Linked DNA regions of Homo sapiens. The gene in region 5 interacts genetically with the main gene of each other region. Each region holds a gene or a part of one and is shown on either strand. Other genes may lie near its edges. The genes, in order: MAGOH, ITGB7, HNRNPA3, TMEM79, CDH1, TNFRSF12A and ARMH1.

Region 1 (3,500 bases), on a different chromosome or scaffold from region 5:
GCCAGTCTCAACAGTCACACTGAGAAAGCTATTCAGACTCGGTGACTCTACAGTTTATCATGAGCACTTTTTTGGCATATTCCATTTTTTCTTCTGGCTGCTCCTATGCATTAATCTATATGTGTGTGTCAACAAGAAGCTCGCAGTAGCAATGGCTGAATGAAACACCAAAAGTAATAGGAGCAAGTCCTCAAAAATAATTTGGGGTTCCTCCCTAACAAGAAGGACAAAGCTGCCCACCTGCATTTTGCATTTGCCCCAGCTCTTCCCATAATGGTCCCAATTTGGTTAAGGTTTCTTATCAATCTGCTCCAAAACAGACACAACTGGATATAAGGATCATGCACACTTACTTGGATTGATTGACATCAATAAGGGAACCAATTTTTGATGTTGTAAAAGAAATGTGTTCATCTCCAATGACGATTTCAAGCTCCTAGAAACATTTTAGAAAATCGAAGTCAAGTAGAATTGGATTATTCATCAAGCACACAGAAGGATTAATCATTTGCCAAATCACACAAACTTGACTACAGATGGCCACAAAAACAAGGGCAGTTCACTCTGAGCACTAAACTGTGCTGGGCACTAGAAACAAGAGATAAATACAGCTCATATTTAGAAGAAGTTGTACCCTTAAGGCCCTACCATTTCTCAGATTTGGAAAAATCTATGTAGGTTTTTTTTTTTTTTTTCCTGAGACAGAGTCTCACTCTGTTGCCCAGGCTGGAGTGCACTGGCATGATCTCGGCTCACTGCAACCTCCGCCTCCCAGGTTCAAGCGATTCTCCTGCCTCAGCTTCCTGAGTGGCTGGGACTACAGGTGCCCGCCACCACGCCCGGCTAATTTTTTTTGTATTTTTAGTAGAGACGGGGTTTCACCGTGTTAGCCAGGATGGATTTTTTTGTATTTTTAATAGAGACAGGGTTTCGCCATGTTGGCCAGGCTGGTCTCGAACTCCTGACCTCAGGTGATCCGCCTGCCTCAGCCTCTCAAGTGCTGGGATTATAGGTATAAGCCACTGCGCCCAGCCTATGTAGTATTTTGTATGAGTTTTCATTGTCAACAATGTGGAGTAACATGAATACACCTATGTTTTAAAAATACCAAACAATTGGACTGGGTGTGGTGACTCATACCTGTAATCCCAGCAGTTTGGGAGGCCAATGCAGGAGAATCACTTGAGCCCAGGAGTTTAAGACCTGTCTGGGCAACTTGGCTAAACCTCATCTGTACAAAAAATACGAAAACTAGCTGGGTGTGGTGGTGTGCATCCGTGGTCCCAGCTACTAGAGAGGCTGAGGTGGGAGGATTCCTTCACCCCAGGAGGTCAAGGCTGCAGTGAGCCATGATCTCATCACTGTACTCCAGCTTGGGCAACAGAGTGAGACCCTGTCTCCAACAACAACAAACAAAAACAAAAACCAAAGAATCTAATCTATCTAGGCAACTTCCAGACCTTAGGTTTGATCCCCACTTTGTCACTCCCTACATGTATGATGTTGGATCTCAATTTCCAAACAGTGACATGAGTACCATAACCTTCAAAAAGTATCTATGTGTAGCCTACTGGGTGCTGGCTATTGTTCTCAGTGCTTTGGACAGATAAGTAAAACCAAGCAAACCAAAGATCTCTGCCCTGTGGAATTCATATTCTTGTGAGGCCTATTTACTTTTTCTTCTTTTTGATTCATATATCCTTTTTGTTATAATTCAATCAGAAAATCGAAAAAACTGAGATGTTTCCAATACTCAGATTTATAAATTATTGCCATACTTGTGTCAGATTTTTTTTAAAAAAGAAGTAAAATATTACAAAGTTTATGTCCATCTCCCATTCTGTTCTCCCTCCTGTATCCCGATTTGTTCCACTCTTGTTTCAGATTTGGTAGTATGTTTTTACTTATTTCTTTTTAGATACAGGATCTCACTCTGTCACTGAAGCTGAAGTATAGTAGTAGGATCATAGCTCACTGTAACCCTGAGCTCCTGGGCTCATGCTATACTGCACCTTTAGCTTCTCGAATAGCTAGGACTACAGGTATGCGCCACCACGCCCAGTTAATTTTTAGGGTTTTTTTTTTTTTCTTTGTAGAAAAAAAGGTCTCACTGTGCTCAGGCTGGTCTTGAGCTCCTGGCCTCAAGTCATCCTCCCACCTTGGCCTCCCAATTAAGAACAAAAGTGCTGGGAATGCAGGCATGAGTCACTGCACCTGGCCTAGACGTGGTAGTGTGCTTTAAAATTTTTACAAAATGGTCTTATTATACATACTTTTTACATTTTTCATTCCACATTGTTTTCGAGATTTATCAATGTTGAGTTACACAGATCTAGCTCATTAGTTTTAAATGCTTGTGGTATTCCATTTCCCTACTGAAATAAACTTAAGTTTTAAATTTTTATTCCTATAAACAATGTAGCAAGAATATTCTTCTATACATCTCCTTGTACATGTGAATATGTCTCCATATAATTCCTAGTATTTTAAATGCTGCCAGATGCCACAAAATTACTCCCTAACGCGGTTATACTAATTTTATTCTCACTCTTTTCTCATATCATTTTTTAAATTCGGCAGATTTTTTTCTGTTTTTATTCTAATGGGTCTGAAATGGTATCTCACTGTTGTCCTTTCATTTTACAAATGAAGCCGTAAATCTTTTCATATTAGCCACTTGTTTGATCTTGTAAGTTATCTATTCATAACCTTTGCACATTCTGCCACGGGACAGTCTTTTTATTAATTTGTAATTCTTTATATATTCTGGATGGAGAACTCTTGCCAGTTTTATGTTTTGCAGATAACTTCTTCCAGTCTATGGCTTATCTTTCAACTTTATCTTGCCATCTTTTGTCAAACCTAAGTTGTAAAGAAGTCAAATTTACCAATCTTACCCCTTAAGGAGTTTTAAAAACTCCTTCTCTACCCAGAAATAATACAAGTCTATATTCTGTTTAAAATTTTTGATTTCTATGGCCTAATTTTAAAAATATTCCATAAATACATTGTCAGCTGTCCTGGTACAATTTGTTAAATAATTCGTTCTTTTCCCATTAATGTGAAAGTCCACCTCTGTAGCACACTTTTCTAAGTTTCCATATATTCATAGGTTGGTTTCTGGGCTCTCTATTCTGTTCCATTGGTTTAGCTGTCAATTCCCGAGGCAATATCATACTACAAATGACCACAGCTTTGTAAGAAATTTCCAGTATTATTTTGGCTACTCTTGCCTCTGATTTTCCATGAATTTAATGCTCATTCTATTTGATTCTAAAGGGAAAAAAATCCTACTGCGATTTTTATTTGAATTAAGAGTGAATTTATAAATTACTTTGTTGAAAACTGACATCTTTATGATACTGAATCTTGCCATCCACAAAAACGATACATATTTTTGTCCTTCTATAAAGCCCTTTCAAGTTTTGTACATCTTGTTAAATGCATTCCCAAGTTCTTTATAACTCTTCTTGCAATTATTAATGGAATTGATTTTAATT
Region 2 (3,500 bases), on a different chromosome or scaffold from region 5:
CAGTCTCTCCAGACGCTGGGTCTCAGGCCTGTAAAACGGATAGTCTCTTGAGTCCTCTCCAGCTCTGACCTAGAAGATGGGTGTCTAGGGAGAGATGCAGGAACGAACCTGTGGCCTGGCTAGGCCTGTCAACAACTGGGAGGGCAAGTTGGGGCCCTTGTGAGTCCAGGATGTTGGCAGAGGCTAGGGCAGTGGTTGAATAGGCAAGGGCTAACAGGGCGGGAGGCAGCGCTCGGCTCACCAATGCGCACAGAATGGGTGACTTCCTGCAGCCGGACCAGCAGAGCGTGCCCGAGCTGGCGCACGCGTTCCAGGTCGTCCTTCATGGAGTAGCTCAGGTCCATAAGGTAGTACAGGTCCACCGGGTATCCCTCAGCACGAAGGAAGCGGACCTGGAGCTGCTGGGGCTCCCCTAGGGGGTGGGCGGCGGGCGGGTCAGCAGAGCGCATTGGAACGCCAGCCTAGACCTCTGGCCTGGCCCCGCCTCCCCTAACTCACCAGGCCGCAGCGTGACCCGGACCCGCTGCGGCGCCAGCTGGGTGGCACCCTCTCCGCGGGCGCCCTGGCTGAGCGGCTGGTCCTGCAGCACCTCCTGCTGGCCGCGGGGCTCCTCCAGCTCCTCCAGCGGGCAGCCTCGAGCCAGCAGCTCCTCTCGTCGGGCGCAGCGCCGCGCCTCCGCCTCTCCCGACGCGGTGAAGTTCTGCTCAGCAAGAAAAGGCGCGTCGGGACCCGGTCCTGCATAGGCCCTGGGCCCCGCTCCCAAAAACACCCTGCAAACCCGGCCACCTCTAATGCCCCCACCTCCAGTCCACTCCTTGAGTCCCTGATTCCCTCCCCTCTTCCTCGCCACAGCTACCCTTGAACTCCGGTCTTTTTTGTTGTTTTGTTTTGTTTTTGAGACGGAGTCTCACTCTGTCACCCAGGCTGGAGTGCTGCGGTGCTATCTCCGCTCACTGCAACCTCCACCTCCCGGGTTCAAGTGATTCTCGTACCTCAGCCTCCCGGTAGCTGGGACTACAGGCATGTGCCACCACGCCCAGGTTTTTTGTATTTTTAGTAGAGACGGGATTTCCCCATATAGGTCAGGCTGGTCTCAAACTTTTGACCTCAAGTGCGCCCACCTCAGCCTCCCAAAGTGCTGGGATTACAGACGTGAACCACCACGCCTTTTTTTTTTTTCCTACTGTAAAGACAGGGTCTTGCTTTTTTGCCCAGTCTTGTTTCGAACTCCTGGCCCCAAGAAATCCTCCTGCCCCAGCCTCCCAAAGTACTGGGATTACAGGCATGAACCGCCACCGGTGGAACTCTGGTCCTTTCTTCCTTGTCAGAGCCCCACTTCCTATAGCAGTCCCCCACCCCTCCCCTATCTCAACTCCCCCTTGCCCCAGCCACCTACCCCTCTCCTCCCCAATAGAGTCACAGACTTCCTGTTGAGATCTTAGAGACTTCACTACCACAAAAAAACAGGGGCCTTGCCTCCTAGGCCAACCTCCCCAGCAAGCTCACACCAAAATGGGAAGGTGGTCAGACTAAGACCCACAGCTCCTTGGAAAGGAAAGGATAAGAACAGAAGAGGAGGCGTCCTCCCCACCAATATGTCTGGTATCCCTGGGACTGGTTGGGAAGCCACAGGGGAAGGAAATGGTTAGAGCGGCTTCTCAGCTGGCCCTAGGTGTCAGGAGACTGGAGAAGCCAGACACAGACCTGACCATCTCAAGAGCGCCAGCTCCCCAGCTCCAGCCTGGCACCTCTGCCTCTCTGCCTTGTGCAGACTCAGTATCTACCCTTCTTGTCCAGTCAGATTCACTGTGTGCCTTTCTCCTGGGTCCCTGTGTGCCTTTCTCCTGGGTCCTCTAAGCATCTGTAGCTCTGCTTCCATGTGAATTTGCCCCCATCTCTTATCTGGGCTCCCACACTGATCTAACCCTCCATCTTACACTGAGAGAGGCAGACCTGCCCCCATCCCAGCTTGGGCACCCCTCCTGCTCTGCTGCTCCATGAGTTCTGTCTCTTTAAAGCATAAACAAACAACAGCTTTGTTTGAAGAGCCAGGGAGACACCTGCTCCCTAGCATCCTTCTTGGCCACTTAGGTAGCTCAAGCCTTTCCAGTCCCCCTCAAGCCCATATGCTTCCACCCCTTCCCTTTCTACCTGTCCAGTCATAGGCTACTACACACCCAGGAACAGAATGCCTCCACCCAAAACACAGACTTAGAAATCTAACCACACACTTGCTGCTATGGACTGAACTCTGCACCCCTACCCCTCCCCACCCCCACCCCATCCTCTGTTGAAGCCCTAACCCTCCATGTGATGGTATTTGGAGATGGAGCCTTTGGGAGGTACCTAGGCTTAGATGAGGGCCTAAGGGTGGAACCCTCATGATGGAATTAGTGCGCTTACAAGAAGAGAGGCAGTTCCCACCCCCATCCCCCAACCCCATCCCCACTATGTGAGGACACAGCGAGAAGGTAGCCAGTCTGCAAGCAAGGAAGAGGGCCCTAACTGAGGAACCAAATCAGCCAGCACTTTGATCTTGGACTTCCCAGCTTCCAACATTAGGAGAAATGAATTCCTGTTGCTTAAACCACCCAGCTTATGGTATTTTGTTATGGCAGCCCGCACTGGGTAGTACCTTTCTCCCATGTTTACATACACAACAGCTCCCTCTACCTATACACAAGCATGAATTCCCACAAGCACATACTTTCTCCCAATTCATGGTCACAAATTCTCTCCATATATACACAAGCAAATGGATACAGACATAATCCTAAGTGCACAAGAAACTTGCATGCATGTGTATGCACACACGTATATCCACACACAGGAGTCCTATGTGCACAAACTCAGTCACACATGAGACTGTGGAGTGTTCCCAGAAAATCATACATGTGCCCACACAATCACACACATATATCCAGGCTGCACATACATATACACATACACATACACATACACATGGTTCAAAGACCATAGGCCCATCTTTACCAGTTGCTTGCACCATGCACAGCTGGGGTGTGAGAGGATGCACTTCTGGCAGGAGGGGGCTGGCTGGCAGGACCCCAGCATGGACAGGTGAGGATTCCGCCATTCTGTGGCATCCCCTGTGGATGGGATCTTGGCGTCCAATTCACTCTCACCTCTGCTCAGGACCAGCAGCAAAACAAGGACCATTGGCAAAGCCACCATGCCCTGTAATAGGATATAAAGGGGGACATGTGGGTCCTCAGGGAGGACTCTCAAACTCTCAGTCCTCTAAACTTAGCTTGTGGTTATCACTCTCAAAACTCTGCCCCAACACTTTATCTCCCCTCATAGTTTCACTTCCCCTGTGGATTCAGCAGTTTCTTCAAAATAATGGGAAGGAGCAGGTATCACGCAAAGGTAGGGGCCTCCGGACGTGGTGGCTCATGCCTGTTATCTCAGCACTTTAGGAAGCCAAGGTGGGTGGATCACCTGAGCTCAGGAATTCGAAACCAGCCTAGTCAACATGGCGA
Region 3 (3,500 bases), on a different chromosome or scaffold from region 5:
CCTTCTGCTACCATATCCACCACTTCCACCACCAGATCCATAACCACCTGAAAATATACATAGTATTTTAAAAGAAGTATGCACATTTTTTAAATTAAAAAGGCTCTAAAGAATTGATTTAAGAAAGTACTTACCACCATAGGGACTGCCCGAGCTTCTTCCACCAAAACTGCCCCCTTTCATGGGTCCATAATTTGATTGCTGTTGTCCACTATAATTTCCAAAATCATTATAGTTCCCACCACCACCATAGTTACCTGAAATCAGAAAGGTTTTATGTGTGGTTTACCTACACAATCATCATTTTCCCCTTTTAACGTATGTAACTATTATCTTTTGAGAATTATGGTAGCATGCTTATACACATCACTGTGGTAGCACCACTTGGGGTAACTGATGTCAGGATATTAAAAGACCATCAACATTTTGTTTATATTAAATGCTGTCCTCTAGGCGCATGTTCTCTCTACCATTAACACCATTAAAATTGCCAGTGTTCCATTCACTATGATTCTGAAGCAGTATAACATTTAAAACAATGAGAAGGCATTCTAACTTGTTAAAACTTCCACTCATCTGTCATTGACATGTTAATTAGGTCCAATAAAACAGTGCATTCCTAAGAAAGCTTTTAACAGTATTGTGGCTTAATGACCTACATACACTAGCTTGCTTAAACGCTTCAACTACCTGTGACATATTATATTAAGACCCAAAGTACTTTGTTAACCTGGGCCCTAGATGGCAACCTGCTCACTTCAACACGTCTGGAGTATTCAAACAATTTATTCCCGGTTGTCCAGTTTAAAAGTACCAAGGAGTTAAGTAAAATTTTGGCAATAAATAAACTCCCAATCTTTTACACGTAAAACATGTACTGAATACTGGTAAATGTCCATTTTTTACTACTCAACTAAAAATTCAGTACATTTGGCTGAGTGCAGTGGCTCATGCCTGTAATCCCAGTACTTTGGGAGGCAGAAGCGGGCAGATCACAAGGTCAGGAGATCGAGACCATCCTGGCTAACATGGTGAAACCCCATCTCTACTAAAAATGCAAAAAAATTAACCGGGCGTGCTGGCATACGCCTGTAGTCCCAGCTACTAGGGAGGCTGAGGCAGGAGAATCGCATGAACCCGGGAGGCGGAGATTGCAATGAGCTGAGATCACGCCACTGCACTCCAGCCTGGGCAACAGAGCAAGACTCCATCTCAAAAAAAAAAAAAAAAAAAAAAAAAAAGAAAAAAGAGAGCTGAGTACATTTGTACATTTTACTAAATAACCAGCAAAGTCAAGAAAATTTGGTTTGAACTACCAACCATTTTAGTATTTTTCTTATAGAACATAAAATTTGATCAAACGCTTTTAACACTTTCCAAATATGTGTCATGGGAACTGTTAGCAACACTGAATATTTAACATTTAAATAAAACAAGTGAATGCTTACCACCGCCAAAATTTCCTCCTTCATTGTAACCATCATATCCTCCACCTCCACCATATCCACCACCTTGGTTTCCATATCCTGGTCCACCACCACCATAGCCCCCTCTACTACTATAACCAGGACCACCGCCATAGTTGCCACCTAAAAAAACAACAAATAACAAGACCACACAAAAACTTAAGTGTATAGTCACGTTATTCAATTCTGGTGTGTGTGTAAGAGACTGGGTCTTGCTCTGTTGCCCGGGCTCAAGTACAGTGGTGCAACCACAGCAATGCAGCCTTGAACTCCTGGGCTCAAGCCATTCTCCCACCTCAGTCTCCTGAGTAGCTAGACTATGGGCATGTGCCACCATGTTCCCCTATTTTATTTTTCTAGATATACGGTCTCCTTATGTTGCTCAGACTAGTCTCAAAATCCTCACCTCAAGCAACCCCTCTGCCTCAGCCTCCTGAATAGCTAGAATTACTCAACTCTGGTTTTATATTACATTTAAGCCACTGGCAAATAAGCCAATGAATTGATTTAGCACTCTGAAGCCTGGTAATACCTAATAATAATAGAGTATCAAGTATCTGCACTAGTAAGAATGAAAAATAAATGTGTAACCCATCTTCTGATAGTAAAAAAGAAAATCAGTTTTCATTTTACAAAATTTCACTAAGAAAAATATAGTCTCAGACTTAATAGAACAATTCTAGCTCAACCCCTACTACTTGCTGAAAAAGAGCAGCTAATGTCTCTCCAGGGGAAAAAGGGTTCCTGTTCTTCCATGTACAGTTTGGAAATACACCTTAACCATTTAGCCACTGAAGTTTTAACTAAAATTAGAAAAGTGTAATAAATAATTTTCAATAAGTAAAGAAAGTTAAAATATCAAACATCAATGAAAATAAGCCACCTACCATCACCTCCAAATCCATTATATCCACCATCACCTCCTCCATAACTACCTCTGCTGCCACCACCTCCACCACCATAGCCTCCTGAGGAAAAACAAGAAATGAATTAAAATAATATATTCAACTTACCAAAATGTCAGGTATCCATGTACTTAGAAGATAAACAGCCTACCTCTTCCACCAAAGTTTCCACCACGGCCAAAATTACCTCCACCACCTCCAAAGTTCCCTCCGCGACCCATAAAATTGCCAGATCCACCTCCACGACCTTTAATACAGGCAAGGGAGATTTTTAAGAACCTTACAAACACCACTCATATCCACTGTATACATGTGTATGGTCCTACTCACCTCTCTGTGATCCAGCAGACTGCATCTCTTGTTTAGAAAGGGCCTTTTTCACTTCACAATTATGCCCATTAATAGTGTGGTATTTCTGAACTAAATTTTTTTTCAATCAAACAAAACAAAAAGTTATTTTATGTTTGGAAAAGCACATATATGAGATACCCTCTGTCATTATGTAACCCATTAAGACATAATCAGGTAGTGACTCTGGTAATGAAGGAGCATTCTGAGATGTTTATGTTTATTTCTTGATCTGGATACTGATTACACAGGCAGACACTATGAAAATTGACTATACACTATAAATGCCATTACACGCAACAGAAAATTACAATTTAGCAAATTTAGTTCAAAACAGAAAAACCAGTTCTACTTTCTCATTCAAGTTACCATAAATTGCTACTTACCAACAATTTTATCAACTGTATCATGATCATCAAAAGTTACAAAAGCAAATCCTCTCTTTTTTCCACTCTGCCTGTCTTCCATAACTTCTATGGTTTCAATCTTGCCATACTTTTCAAAGTAGTCTCTCAAATTATATTCTTCTGTATCTTCTTTAATACCACCAACAAAAATTTTCTTCACTGTTAGATGGGCACCAGGCTTTACAGAATCCTACAAATAAAGTAATATATTAAGTCAAGAAACAAACTTTCACAACAATTTCACATATTACACAATGTATTATTAAAATACCTCTCTAGAAACAGCTCTCTTTGGTTCCACTACACGCCCATCAACCTTGTGTGGTCGAGCACACATTGCTGCATCCACCTCTTCAACACAAGAATAAGTCACA
Region 4 (2,809 bases), on a different chromosome or scaffold from region 5:
GATCATTTTATATCAATATAAAAATGGTTTTCTCATTCTTTTATAGCTGCAGTGTGTTCCATTGTATTTATCCTCTTGCAGATGAAGAAACTAAGATTCCAAGGGTTAAGTAAGACTGGTCCAAGATCACACATCTGGGAAATAGCAAAGCCATGATATGAACCCAAACCTGTTCATTACCTTCCCTTCTGCCAATTTGAGGGGCAGAGGTAAAGAGGAGAGCAAAGAAGCCACCTCTAGGAGGGCTTGAAGCCCAGAGGATGGGTCAGCCACAGATTTCGTGGAAGATATGTTCAATACACACCCCTCAATGGAGGGAGGGGAGAGCAACTTCCTCTTAATATATGAAGGATCACTTCTTAATATATGAAGGACCACTTATTACATGATTCATGTGCCTCTATTCTTTTTTACCTGTGAAAGGGAGGGAAGAGTAACTGCTGCTTCTCTTCTGCACTAGGAAGCAGCATAGTATAATGAACCAAGTACCAGATTGTTTTTTTGTTGTTCTTGTTATTTTTTGAGACAGAGTCTCGCTCTGTCGCCCAGGCTGGAGTGCAGTGGCCCAATCTCGGCTCACTGCAAGCTCCGCCTCCCAGGTTCACGCCATTCTCCTGCCTCAGCCTCCTGAGTAGCTGGGACTACAGGTACCCACCACCATGCCCGGCTAATTTTTTATTTTTATTTTTAGTAGAGACGTGGTTTCACCGTGTTAGCCAGGATGGTCTCGATCTCCTGACCTGGTGATCCACCCGCCTTGGCCTCCCAAAGTGCTGGGATTACAGGCGCCCATCACCACACCCGGCTAATTTTTTGTATTTTTATTAGAGATGGGGTTTTACCGTGTTAGCCAGGATGGTCTCGATCTCCTGACCTCATGATCCACCTGCCTTGGCCTCCCAAAGTGCTGGGATTACAGGTGTGAGCCACCACGCCTGGCACCAAGTACTAGATTGTTTTAAGTACTCTACATGAATTAACTCATTTAATCCTCATAACGACCTCATTTTACAGATGATGAAACTGAGGCACAAACTGCTTAATGAACTTGTCCATGGTAAAGAAGAAAGGACCCTGGATAAGAGAGGAAAAGGACCTGGATTCTAGTCCTGCCACTATTGCCGACTGACCTGAGCAACTCTCTTCCCCTAATCTGTTGTGATTTTCCCTTTGTAAAATGGGAAGCCTGGACCAGACAATCACTGAGTCTTCCTTTAGCTCCCTGATGATTTTTACTGCTTAAGCCAACTTCTATCTGAAACCAGTATTCCCCAGGAGTTTAAGATGGCAGGCTAAGTTACATGAGCAGGAACATATTTATTTTGGGAAAACCTATTGGGAGAAAATGCAAGGCTGCATGATGGTCAGGAGGCTGGTGGGACAACTGACTGCTGGACCACAATCAGAAGTGACAGGAAGACTAATTTTAGCTCAATAGGAAGAATATTTTATTTTAGCGAGCTACCTGGAATCCTGTATCAAAAGTAACAAGAGCAGGCCAGGTGTGGTGGCTCACGCCTGTAATCCCAGCACTTTGGGTGGCCAAGATGGGTGGATTATCTGAGGTCAGAAGTTCGAGACCAGCCTGGCCAACATGTTGAAACCCTGTCTCTACTAAAAATACAAAAAAAATTAGCTGGGCATGGTGGCTCACACCTGTAATCTCAGCTACTCGGGGGGCTGAGGCAGGAAAACTGCTTGAGCCTGGAGACAGAAGTTGTAGTGAGCCAAGATTGCGCCACTGCACTCCAGCCTGGGTAACAGAGTAAGACACCATCTCAAAAAAAAAAAAAGAAAAAAAAAGTAACAAGAGCATATGTATTAGGGAAAATGGAAAGAAAAGACCTGCATTTGGGTTAAGAAATTCAAAGGTGCCTTCTAGATTAACAGTAGTTCATGTGAAAATACCCCTAAGGATTTTTTTTTTTTTTTTTTTGAGACGGAGTCTCACTCTTTCACCCAGGCCAGACTGCAGTGGCGCTATCTCGGCTCCCGGGTTCACGCCATTCTCCTGCCTCAGCCTCCCGAGTAGTTGGGACTGTAGGCGCTCGCCACCGCACCCGGCTAATTTTTTTGTATTTTTAATAGAGACGGGGTTTCACCGTGTTAGCCAGGATGGTCTCAATCTCCTGACCTCATGATCTGCCCGCCTCCGCCTCCCAAAGTACCCCTAAGGATTTTAGGTGATGGCAAAGTCTGAATGAAAGGAGAGTAAGGGCCAGGCGCAGTGGCTCACGCCTGTAATCCCAGTACTTTGGGAGGCTGAGGCGGGCAGATCACCTGAGGTTAGGGGTTCAAGAACTGCCTGGCCAACATGGTGAAACCCTATCTCTACTAAAAATACAAAAAGTTAGCTGGGCCTGGTGGTGGGCGCCTGTAATCCCAGCTACGCGGGAGGCTGAGGCAGGAGAATCGCTTGAACCCAGTAGGTGGAGATTGTAGTGAGCTGAGATCCTGCCATTGTACTCTCCAGCCTGGGCAACAAGAGTGAAACACTGTCTCAAAAAAAAAAAAAAAAAAAAAAAAAGTGGAGAGTAAGAAGGCTGCGAGGAGAGCTCACACATCCTTGGTTTGTATGAAGAAAAGGACAGTACCCTCTACCAGGGCCATCCCCTCATTGACAAACAGGAAGAGAAGGACAGTACCCTCAACCAGGCCCCCCAACCTTGAGACCTCATCTCTATATTTTTTTAATTTTAATTATTTATTTATTTGTTTGAGACGGAGTCTCACTCTGTCACCCAGGCTGGAGTGCAATGGCGCGATCTTGGCTCACTGCAACCTCCGCCTCCCAGGTTCAAGCGATTCT
Region 5 (3,500 bases):
ATTCACCCAGGAGGTCTTTAAGGGGTCTGTCATGGAAGGTGCTCTTCCAGGTATATCCACTAATGAGAATCTGAATACTCAGAAAGACTCTTAGGTTCTTTGGACCCCAAAGTGTTGTCCAAGCCCAAAGGTTGTGTAACTAAAGCTGATCCTTCCTACGGACAGAACTTCTTGGCAAGCCATTGTTGTGTTATATGCATGTGTGTAACAGTCTACCTGTGGAAACATATAAAATAGGGAGAGTTTAAGAACAATCTTCCCTTTTTTATTATTAATTTTTTTTTTTTTTAGGCTGGGCATGGTGGCTCATGCCTGTAATCCCAGCACTTTGGGAGGCCAAGGTGGATGGGTCACCTGTGCTCAGGAGTTCAAGACCAGCCTGACCAACATGGTGAAACCTCGTCTCTATTAAAAATACAAAAAAATTAGCCGGTCGTGGTGGCGGGGGCCTGTAATCCCAGCTACTTGGGAGGCTGAGGCAGGAGAATTGCTTGAACCCGGGAGGCGGGGGTTGCAGTAAGCTGAGATCACGCCACTGCACTCCAGCCTGGGTGACAGATCCAGACTCCGTCTCAAAAAAAAAAAAATTTTTTTTTCAGAGACAGGGTCTTGCTTTGTTGTCCAGGCTACTTTCAAACTCCCGGGCCCAAGCAATCCTCCCACCTCAGCCCCACAAGCTGCTAAGATTATAGGCATGAGCTACTATACCTGGCTAAGAACAACCTTCCTAATTAAGGAACAGATCTTTACCAGTACCTTAAAGCCCTAAACAATCCCCCTTGGTCACATTCTTTTCTCTCCTCCATAAAGATAACCACACCCTAGGCTGGGTGTGGTGGTTCACACCTGTAACCCCAGCACTTTGGGAGGCCAAGGTGGGCAAATCACTTGAGGTCAGGAGTTTGAGACCAGCCTGACCAACATGGAGAAACCCTGTCTCTACTAAAAATAGAAAATTAGCTGGGCGTGGCGACGCATGCCTATAATTCCAGATACTTGGGAGGCTGAAGCAGGAGAATTGCTTGAACCCGGGAGACAGAGATTGTGGTGAGCCGAATCACGCCATTGCATTCCAGCCTGGGCAACAGGAGCAAAACTCCGTCTCAAAAAAAAAAAAAAAAAAAAAGATAACCACACCCTGACTTTTGTGGTAATCATTCCCTTTCTTTTCTTTATTACCATTTGTGTATTTATACCTGGATAATAAGTTGATAGTTTGAGCTTTCTTTCTCCCCTAGCACTTTGGTAAGAATTCTAGGAATTAGGGAACTCTGACACGGTACCACCCCCATGTCCCCTCCTTTATCCCTCAGGGCAGAATTGGATTAAGCAGTATTGACCCAGTCCCAAAGTGCAGCTTGTCTAAACCTTCATCTCCTTGAACTCTTCCAGGAACCTCTGTGATGGAGGTCACAGCCACAGACGCGGACGATGATGTGAACACCTACAATGCCGCCATCGCTTACACCATCCTCAGCCAAGATCCTGAGCTCCCTGACAAAAATATGTTCACCATTAACAGGAACACAGGAGTCATCAGTGTGGTCACCACTGGGCTGGACCGAGAGGTCAGGGGTCAGGAGGATCCAGAGGGTGTGGAGGACAAATGTGTATTAGCTCAATCCCGTGGACAAAGCAAAATCCTGCTAGGCCAGTTGTCAGTTAATACAGTGATGGTCTAAGCTTTGCATCTAAGCTTGTGCCCAGAGGTTCCGTGCCTAGAAGACAGGCAGGCTGGCATGAAGCACATGGTTAAATATTCTGGTTCCATGTGTTGGGCTGGGCTAGGCCAAAGGTGGCTAGTGTTCCTGGTCCTGACTTGGTTGTGTCGATCTCTCTGCAGAGTTTCCCTACGTATACCCTGGTGGTTCAAGCTGCTGACCTTCAAGGTGAGGGGTTAAGCACAACAGCAACAGCTGTGATCACAGTCACTGACACCAACGATAATCCTCCGATCTTCAATCCCACCACGGTAATTCTATAACTCCTTAGAGGGTTTCCAAAGAAAGGTCTTTTGTTGTTCATGAACTAAGTGTCACCACTGCTCATGGGCGAAGTCTTTGAAAACTCTCTCCAGACTAGAGAATGTTAACTTTAAACTTAAAAGCAAGCATCTTGAGATGGCAGTTGTCTTTTAGTATCTTTTTTCCACCCTTGGCCTGGGGCCAATTGGTGCAAGATTGTGAAGTTGCAAAAAGCACCTACTGATTTCATAGTCTCATGGTACATTTTTATAGCAAATATTACCTGGTTTCATTTCTTTATTGAACAAATATTTTCTAAGTTTATATTAGGCACTGTGTTAGACACTGGAGAGACCATCACACACAAAGATTCCATTCTCATGGTGTTTCTGGTATAGCCAGGAAGACATCTTATGAGAATTATTGTATGCCAAGGATATTACATGCATTCAAGGAGAAGGTATTGAGAACCAAGTAGGGTAAGTTTAAATCATCCTGTATAATGGCCAGGCGTGGTGGCTCACACCTGTAATCTAGCAAGTTGAGAGGCCAAGGCTGGTGGATCCCTTGAGGATGGAGTTTGAGACCAGCCTGGCCAACGTGGCGAAACTCCATCTCCACTAAAAATACAAAAATTAGCTGGGCGTGGTGGTGCATGCTTGTAATCCCAGCTACTCGGGCATCTGAGGCATGAGAGTTGCTTGAACCCAGGAGGCGGAGGCTGCAGTGAGCCGAGATTGTACCATTGCACCCCAGTGCGCCCATTGCCTGGCCTCTCCTTGTCACATCTTCTCCTTGAAGCTTGCTTTCAGTTAGCCAGGTGTGGTGGTGCATGCCTGTGGTCCCAGCTACTCTGGAGGCTGAGGTGGGAGGATTGCTTGAGCCCAGGAGGTTGAGGCTACAGTGAGCCATGATCGCTCAAATACACTCCAGCCTGGTGACAGTGAGATCTTATCTCAAAAGAACAACAAAAAAAGAGGAATCCTTTAGCCCCCTGAGACTCAGCTCTGCTAGCAGTCTTGGTACTTTGTAAATGACACATCTCTTTGCTCTGCAGTACAAGGGTCAGGTGCCTGAGAACGAGGCTAACGTCGTAATCACCACACTGAAAGTGACTGATGCTGATGCCCCCAATACCCCAGCGTGGGAGGCTGTATACACCATATTGAATGATGATGGTGGACAATTTGTCGTCACCACAAATCCAGTGAACAACGATGGCATTTTGAAAACAGCAAAGGTTTGTATGGTACCTGGCAAGATGCAGAAACTGGCATCCTCACAGCTGTTCATACCCTTGTCCCCTGGTATCTTCTTAGAAGTAGATTCGCTTTGGCAGGGGGACAGGGTGACTTTCCCAGATTGTAGTGGACCATGTGGGATTTGCAGTGGCTCTTCCTGCTCATGTAAGAAATCAAGAAACTGTGCTGTGTGTGGTGGCTCACGCCTGTAATCCCAGCACTTAGGGACGCTGAGGCAGGCAGATCACGAGGTCAGGAGTTTGAGTCTCTGCTAAAAATACAAAAATTAGCCAGG
Region 6 (4,000 bases), about 66 Mb from region 5:
GGGGACATAATGGAGCTCTGAGTGCTGGTGGACAGTGCCCCTCCCACCTTCCTTCTTCCCCACAACAGAAGAGACCAGCGACTCCCGCAAAGGGACAAGGTTCCTCCCTCTCCTGCAGAGTAGGCATCTGGGCACCAAGACCTTCCCTCAACAGAGGACACTGAGCCCAACGGAGTTCTGGGATGGGAGGGGTGGGAGCATGGGAAGGGAGGCATCCCACCCCCAAGAAGAACTGAATAAAGATTGCTGAGCAAAGGAAGGCTTCAGTCTGGAACCTGGGGCTTTTGGGGATGGTGGAGAGGGCAGAGGCGCGGGATGCTGGGGTTTCTCCTCAAGATCTTCCCTGGAAAACTGTTAGGGCCAGCCAGGTCCTTGCCGGCTGAGTTCCAGGCATTGAGAATGTGTGAGTCAGAGCCTCACCCCCGCCCCCGCGGCTGGCTGACTCACTCCCTCCCTCCAGCTCAGGGGAGTCAGTCGGGGATCACTGCCTCTCCAAACCATTTAAAGTTAAAGATTCTTTTATTAATAAATTCTCCCTCCCCTCCAAACTCTCCCCAAAATAAATATCTCCTCCCCGCTTTGGGGAGTTGGGGGGGTCTGTATCTTAGGGCCAGCCCTCCTAGTGGGCCAGCCCCCTAGTGTTAAAAATAGGTCCCTAACCCCCCAGGGTGACCCCCGTGGTGGAATTTCAGGACATCTGAGTGAGTGGGGCCTAGTGTCAAGTCTGCCCCCCAAGTCAGCCTGGCCCCCAGGGCCTCTAGGAAGGAGGGCACCCCCCTCCCCTGTGCAAATGCTGCAGTTCCTTAGTCAGTGTCAGCTGTTTTGTGTGAGCCAGCGTGAGGCTCCCTTTCTGTTCTGGAGCCAGAGGCAGGGCAACCAGACACCTTGGAAGGTTCCCCTGAACCCTGGGCCCAGGCCTCAGAGGTGATTCACCGCCCCCCACCCCCCTTGTGGTTGGAGGAGCTTGGCTCCCGCCGCGTCTGGGAGGCAGAGACTGGCTCTAGAATGGATGAATGAATGATGAGTGGGCGAGCCCCGGCTGGCAGGGGGCACATTGTCACTGGATCAGCGCCACAGCTGGGCAGCCCTCTCCGCCGGTCTCCTCTATGGGGGCTGCAAGATAAGAGGTGGGGTCGTCAGCAGCAGAGAAAAGGTCGAGTGCTGACAGGGCTGGGCAGGCCAGGGCACACTTACTGGTGAACTTCTCTCTCCTGCGGCATCGTCTCCAGACCAAAAAGCCAGAAAGCAGCCCCAGCACGAAGGTCAGGCTCAGAGCGCCCCCAAGGATGGGCCAAAGCAGCCGGAAGGGGGCAGGAGGTGCTGCAGCGCCTGGGGGCGGGACTCGGAGTCAGACCTCGCCCCTCTCCAGGCCAGCCCCGCCCCCTAAGACTGAGCCTTCTGCCTTCTCCCAAACGTGGCCTCCTCCCTGACCGGAGCCCCCTCCCAGCTCCCACCTCCTCCCGAATGATTTCCCAGATGCAAAGCTCTCGGCCCCGCTCTGCGCACCAGCCACCCTCCCTCCCAGTCTGGGGTCCGCTGGCCACTGGCCCTGCCCCCCACTCACAGCCCAGGCAGAAGTCGCTGTGCGGTCGCGCCCTGCAAGACGCGCAGTCCATGCACTTGTCCAGGTCCGCGCTCCAGGAGCTGCCGCGGGAGCAGGGGGCGGTGCCTGGGGAGGGGGCCTCGGGTCAGAGGCTGGGGGCGGGACTCGGCTATTCTGGGGTCTGAGGTCAGGGTCGGCCGGCTCGAATAACGTGAGTCACCGGCGCCCTCCCCGCGCATTCCTCACAGGTGACCGCACGGCCCGACCGGGACACGGCAGCTCCGGGAGGGAGGGCGTAGCGCGGGACGCTGGGGGTGGGGGGGGTCAGGTCCCCACAACCCCCCTGCCGCCGGCGGGTGACTCACTCCTGGGCACCGGGCCCGACCCCAGTCCCTCCCCCCGCATAGCTGGGCACTGAAGTCACCGGATGGAAGGGGGCACCCCACATGGTATAGAGGGCACAGACCCTAGTGCCTCTCGACGGCCTCCCCAACTCGTCGATCACTGGGGCTAGTTAGACCCTGTACGGACCAGGCTGGGGGCGTGCCCCTTCCTAGACTAAACATCCCGCCCTCACTCACTTTCTCTCTCCATTCGAAGTACTTCGGACTTGTGGAACTGAAGACCCCCCCCAACCCCAATTGGACGGTGGGAGAAACTGAGGCCCGGATTGTGAATGAAGCTTGGAGAGTGATGGAACTTCCCACAGCCGGGAGCGAGCTGTTTGAAGGCCACCTGACCCCAGATCCCCACATCCGCCTGTTCCCCCAGTTCGGCGCTGTTCTCCAGACACCCAGTCCGGCTCCCGAGCCCCGGCCCGGGGTTCCCCGACCCCGGAGTCCCGCGTACCTGGCGCTTGCTCCCCGGCCACGGAGCGCAGCAACGCCAGCCAGAGCCCCAGCACGAGGAGCCGCAGCAACCGGCGCAGCGAGCCCCGAGCCATAGTGCACGTCCTGCGCCCGCCGCTGTCTGCGCCCGCCGCCGGCCGGCAGGGACCCACGGCCGCCGCCCCGCCCCCGCCCCCGCCTTCCGGGGCGGAGCTCTCGCCTCCGCCCGCCTTGAGGTCCGCTTCGGGACGCCCCGCCCCGCGGCGCCCGCTCAGTTCAGTCATTCATTCAACAAAGTCCTGGCGCGGGAGCTGCCAGGACCCCGCAGGGACGCAGACCCCCTTCCTTGCCCAGCCGGTGATCTAGTCCAGCGTGCGTGGTGTGGGGAAATCAAAAATTAGACACGAGTGCTCGCTTCGGCAGCACATATAGAAATCAGACACGAACGGCCGGACGCGGTGGCTCACGCCTTTAATCCCATCAGTTTGGGAGTCTGAGGCAGGCGGATTACGAGGTCAGGAGTTCGAGAGCAGCCTGACCAACGTGGTGAAACGCCGTCTCTACTCGAAATACAAAAATTAGCCGGGCGTGGTGGCGCGCGCCTGCAATCCGAGCTACTCAGGAGGCTGAGGCAGGAGAATCTCTTGAACCCGGGAGGCAGAAGTTGCAGTGAGCCGAGATCGCGCCACTACACTCCAGCCTGGGCGACAGAGTGAGAGTCCGTCTCAAATAAATAAATAAATAAATAAATAAATAAATAAACAAACAAACAAACAATAAAAAGAAATCAGACACACGACCAATCCATGCAGAGATCACTGCAGCTTCCTTCCCCCCACCTCCCCTTGAGATTGCGTCTCACTCTTGCTCAGCCTGGAGTGCAGTGGTACGATCACGGCTCTCTGGGCTCAGGTGAGCCTCCCACCTCAGCCTCCCAAGTAGCTGGGACCACAGGCCCTGCCCCACCACGTCCGGCTAATTTTTGTATTTTTTGTAGAGACCAGGGTCTTACTATGTTGCCCAGGTTAGCCTGGCCACTACAGCTTTGTTAAGGGCCCGGGGGGTATAACAATTAAACCTGAGGTCAGGAGCTCGAGACCAGCCTGGCCAACTTGGTGAACCCCCGTCTTTACTAAAAATAAAAAAAAGAAAGAAGTTAGCCGGGCGTGGTAGTGGGCGCCTGTAATCTCAGCTACTCGGGAGACTGAGGCAGGAGAATTTCTGGAACCTGGGAGACGGAGGTTGCAGTCAGTCGAGATAGCGCCATTGCACTCCAGACTGGGCGACAGAGAGGGCCTCCATCTCAAAAAACAAAACAGGCCGGGCGCGGTGGCTCACGCCTGTAATCCCAGCACATTGGGAGGCCGAGGCGGGCAGATCACGAGGTCAGGAAATCGAGGCCATCCTGGCTAACACGGTGAAACCCCGTCTCTACTAAAAATACAAAAAAATTAGTCGGGGGTGGTGGCGGGCACCTGTAGTAGTCCCAGCTACTCTGGAGGCTGAGGCAGGTGAATGGCGTGAACCCGGAAGGCAGAGCTTGCAGTGAGCCAAGATCGCGCCACCACACTCCAGCCTTGGCGAGAGAGCGAGACTCCATCTCAAAAACAAACAACAACAACAACAAAAA
Region 7 (3,189 bases), on a different chromosome or scaffold from region 5:
TATTTTTAGTAGAGATGGGGTTTCACCATCTTGGCCAGGCTGGTCTTGAACTTCTGACCTCGTGATCCACGCGCCTCGGCCTCCCAAAGTGCTGGGATAGCAGGCATGAGCCACTGGGCCCGGTGGGCCCAGCCAGTAAATGCTAGTATTTTTGTTTGTTTGTTTTTTTGAGACGGAGTTTCACTGTCATCACTCAGGCTGGAGTGCAATCGCTCACTGCAACCTCTGCCTCCCGGGTTCAAGCGATACTCCTGCCTCAGCCTCCTGGGAAGCTGGGATTACAGGCGTCTGCCACCACGCCCGGCTGATTTTTGTATTTAGTAGAGACAGGGTTTCACCATGTTGGCAAGGCTGGTCTTGAACTCCTGACCTCAGGCCTCCCAAAGTGCTCAGGCCTCCCAAAGTGCTCCCAAAGTGACCGAGAACTCCTGCCTCGGCCTCCCAAAGTGCTGGGATTACAGGCATGAGCCACCACGCCTGGACTTTTTTTTAAATTTAAATTTTATTTTTTTTCTGAGACAAGGTCTTACTCTGTCGTCCAGGCTGGTCTTGAACTCCTGGGCTCAAGCGATCCTCCTACCTCTGCCTCCTTAAGTGCAGGGATTACAGGTGTGAGTCACTGTGCACCGGGCACTGCTACTCTGAACACATGTGGCTACATGGAAGACAGGACTTGGCCATGTGCTCTCCCCAGCTCAGTAGTCAAGTGCCTCTCTCCATTTACTGGTAAGAGAGAGAGGGTTTAGAGGAACTCTTGTTCCGGCGCTCAGCTCATTTGCATCCCAGAATGCATTGTAGATACGAGAATTATTACCAGGGTTATCTGTTTGAATAATAATATTTAAACTTTTTTTCTTTGTCAGGAGATTTTACCCAGTGAGAACATGTTTAGGACACTTTTCTACAGTGGAAGAAAAGCTTCTGTCTGCAGGTCCAAAGGCACCGTAAGTAGAGGGAGACCAGTCAATAGCTGGGAAGCCAGGCAAAAGGCTAACAGGCAGATCTCTGGTTTCTCTTCATAACGAATAAATCTTTCGCCTTTTACTAAAGATTTCCGTGGAGAAAAACAACTATGAGTTTATGGTTAAATTTTTTGAAGTCTTGCCTAGGCAAGGCTGAATGTTCTGTTACTAAAGAGAGACGTGTGGGTGGGGTGTTTCATGCTTTGGGAGGTTGGGGTAGCTCCACAAATGTCACCCAGGTTGTAGCGGAGTGGTGTGGTCGCGGCTCACTACAACCTCCATCTCCCATGCTCAAGCAATCCTCCCACCTCAGCCTCATAAGCCTGTCTAATTTTGTGTACTTTTTGTAGTGCCCGGCCTACTGTCATGTTTTTTTAGCTTCTTGTAAACATTTAGGAAGCTAAATGTTTATAAGATTTTTTTTTTTAAAAGAAAACCTAGTTTTTGACAGTCTGTATCTAATAATTTGGCTGAAGTCTTGTGAGTCTTTCTAGTGTGCTAGTTCCAATTTATAGTGATGACTTTGTGTGCATGATTATCTTATACTTTGGACTGGTCTCATATTTGAAAAATTAAGTGTAGGAAAAACTTAAGAGTTAGGATGATGATACTTTCTTCCAGAGATAGTTTTCTTTTGTTTTTATCAGGTACCTGGGGACACAAACAATTCTGGACTACCTTTGTCCACATTCAACACTTGAGGTTCTCTGGACCACCTGGTAGTTATATAATCCATACAAGACCACCTGAGGGCCGGCTTACTTTTGGCCCACCTTGACCTTGAGGGTACTGTCTTCTGGGGTCCAACTTAAAGTATGTATGCTAGAGGTATCAGACTTCCCACCGAGAGCAGAATCTCAGTGCCTTCTCTTTCTTTTGCCCTTTTTTTGTTTTGTTTTGTTTTGAGATGGAGTTTCACTCTGTCACCCAGGCTGGAGTACAGTGGTACGATCTCGGCTCACTGCAGCTTCCACCTCCTGGGTTCAAGGGATTCTCCTGCCTCAGCCTCCCGAGTAGCTGGGATTACAGGTGCGCACCACCACGCCTGGCTAATTTTTGTATTTTTTAGTAGAGACAGGGTTTCACTATGTTGGCCAGGCTGGTCTTGAACTCCTGACCTCAAGTGATCCACCTGCCTTGGCCTCCGAAAGTGCTGGGATTACAGGTGTGAGCCACCACGCCCGGCCTGAGAAGTCTTCTTTATCTGGCTATTGCTACTCATTCTTCTAGGCTCAGCTGAGAAATCAACTTTCAGGAAGCTGCCCCTGGCCTGCTCTCCTCTGCCTTCACTCTTCACTCAGGAGTAGATGTCCTATGTCTCTGAACCCGTAGCACCGTATAGAATTCTTGCTATAGAATTCTAGTACTATCCACTAAATGGTCTCCTCACTAGTGTGTGAACTCCAATGAACATATCTGACACATCTCACTTCTGTTTACCTAGAGCCTGAAACCATTCCATGTACACAATGCATGCTCCATACATCTTGTTGAAAAGACCTCATTGGATTCTGCATTCCAACAGGCGAGGCTTGGGTCATGGCAGCCTAGGACCACGCTTAGAAACCACCAGCCTGGTGGTGGATGACCCCAGAGGAGGCTCTGCAGTGGCCACTGTGGTCCTCATTCACACAGCTACAGAACTTTCCTAGCTTGAATCTTGGACAGGCTGGAGAGCCAGAACTGTGGCAGCTGTCTCCCCGTATACCCCATGGCCAACTTTTTTTTTTTTTTTTTTTTTTTGAGACAGAGTTTTGCTCTTGTTGCCCAGGCTGGAGTGCAATGGCACGATCTTGGCTCACTGCAACCTCTGCCTCATGGATTCAAGCAATTCTCCTGCCTCAGCCTCCCAAGTAGCTAGGATTATAGGCGCCCGCCACCACACCTGCCTAATTTTTTTGTATTTTTAGTAGAGACGGGGTTTCACCATGTTGGCCAGGCTGGTCTCTAACTCCTGTCCTCAGGTGATCCACCCACCTTGGCCTCCCAAAGTGTTGGGATTACAGGCGTGAGCCACTGCACCTGGCCCCATGGCCAACTTTGAGAGTGCTTTGAAGCCAGGACCTTATACTTCTTGGCCACCCCAGAACTGGGCACCACTCTATGGATGCTCATATCATACAACCCAGGCACAACAGAAAGGGGAAGAGTGTGGTCCTTCTCACAGTGGGAGACACAGGGCACCTGGTGAGATGGTCAGAGATGTGGACTGCGTGGATTTACAGAG

Evidence for each region.
Region 1: changes in CDH1 (region 5) and MAGOH together harm fitness more than expected from each alone (negative genetic interaction), as found in Homo sapiens cells (one large-scale study listed by BioGRID).
Region 2: changes in CDH1 (region 5) and ITGB7 together harm fitness more than expected from each alone (negative genetic interaction), as found in Homo sapiens cells (one large-scale study listed by BioGRID).
Region 3: changes in CDH1 (region 5) and HNRNPA3 together harm fitness more than expected from each alone (negative genetic interaction), as found in Homo sapiens cells (one large-scale study listed by BioGRID).
Region 4: changes in CDH1 (region 5) and TMEM79 together harm fitness more than expected from each alone (negative genetic interaction), as found in Homo sapiens cells (one large-scale study listed by BioGRID).
Region 6: changes in CDH1 (region 5) and TNFRSF12A together harm fitness more than expected from each alone (negative genetic interaction), as found in Homo sapiens cells (one large-scale study listed by BioGRID).
Region 7: changes in CDH1 (region 5) and ARMH1 together harm fitness more than expected from each alone (negative genetic interaction), as found in Homo sapiens cells (one large-scale study listed by BioGRID).

The regions. Positions count from the first base shown.
Region 1 is NC_000001.11:53,228,519-53,232,018, forward strand, and holds part of MAGOH (protein mago nashi homolog), read right to left. Parts: intron 437-3,500; coding exon 354-436; intron 1-353. UniProt on the Homo sapiens protein: Required for pre-mRNA splicing as component of the spliceosome. Plays a redundant role with MAGOHB as core component of the exon junction complex (EJC) and in the nonsense-mediated decay (NMD) pathway.
Region 2 is NC_000012.12:53,197,252-53,200,751, forward strand, and holds part of ITGB7 (integrin beta-7 isoform a precursor), read right to left. Parts: intron 3,203-3,500; exon of another isoform or gene 3,196-3,202; 5' UTR 3,193-3,195; coding exon 2,992-3,192; intron 701-2,991; coding exon 499-700; intron 413-498; coding exon 242-412; intron 1-241. UniProt on the Homo sapiens protein: Integrin ITGA4/ITGB7 (alpha-4/beta-7) (Peyer patches-specific homing receptor LPAM-1) is an adhesion molecule that mediates lymphocyte migration and homing to gut-associated lymphoid tissue (GALT).
Region 3 is NC_000002.12:177,215,794-177,219,293, reverse strand, and holds part of HNRNPA3 (heterogeneous nuclear ribonucleoprotein A3), read right to left. Parts: coding exon 3,398-3,500; intron 3,317-3,397; coding exon 3,106-3,316; intron 2,792-3,105; coding exon 2,702-2,791; intron 2,619-2,701; coding exon 2,523-2,618; intron 2,435-2,522; coding exon 2,354-2,434; intron 1,590-2,353; coding exon 1,449-1,589; intron 258-1,448; coding exon 135-257; intron 48-134; coding exon 1-47. UniProt on the Homo sapiens protein: Plays a role in cytoplasmic trafficking of RNA. Binds to the cis-acting response element, A2RE. May be involved in pre-mRNA splicing.
Region 4 is NC_000001.11:156,287,325-156,290,133, reverse strand, and holds part of TMEM79 (transmembrane protein 79), read right to left. Parts: intron 1-2,809.
Region 5 is NC_000016.10:68,810,292-68,813,791, forward strand, and holds part of CDH1 (cadherin-1 isoform 1 preproprotein), read left to right. Parts: coding exon 1-50; intron 51-1,392; coding exon 1,393-1,568; intron 1,569-1,843; coding exon 1,844-1,972; intron 1,973-3,021; coding exon 3,022-3,204; exon of another isoform or gene 3,205-3,271; intron 3,272-3,500.
Region 6 is NC_000016.10:3,018,884-3,022,883, reverse strand, and holds TNFRSF12A (tumor necrosis factor receptor superfamily member 12A precursor), read right to left. Parts: upstream 2,517-4,000; 5' UTR 2,487-2,516; coding exon 2,393-2,486; intron 1,670-2,392; coding exon 1,565-1,669; intron 1,330-1,564; coding exon 1,195-1,329; intron 1,114-1,194; coding exon 1,058-1,113; 3' UTR 501-1,057; downstream 1-500. Other genes in the region: HCFC1R1 (host cell factor C1 regulator 1), read left to right, coding at 1-21. UniProt on the Homo sapiens protein: Receptor for TNFSF12/TWEAK. Weak inducer of apoptosis in some cell types. Promotes angiogenesis and the proliferation of endothelial cells. May modulate cellular adhesion to matrix proteins.
Region 7 is NC_000001.11:44,719,714-44,722,902, reverse strand, and holds part of ARMH1 (armadillo-like helical domain containing protein 1), read right to left. Parts: exon of another isoform or gene 2,105-3,189; intron 1,119-2,104; exon of another isoform or gene 1,001-1,118; intron 945-1,000; exon of another isoform or gene 724-944; coding exon of another isoform or gene 656-723; exon of another isoform or gene 484-655; intron 1-483.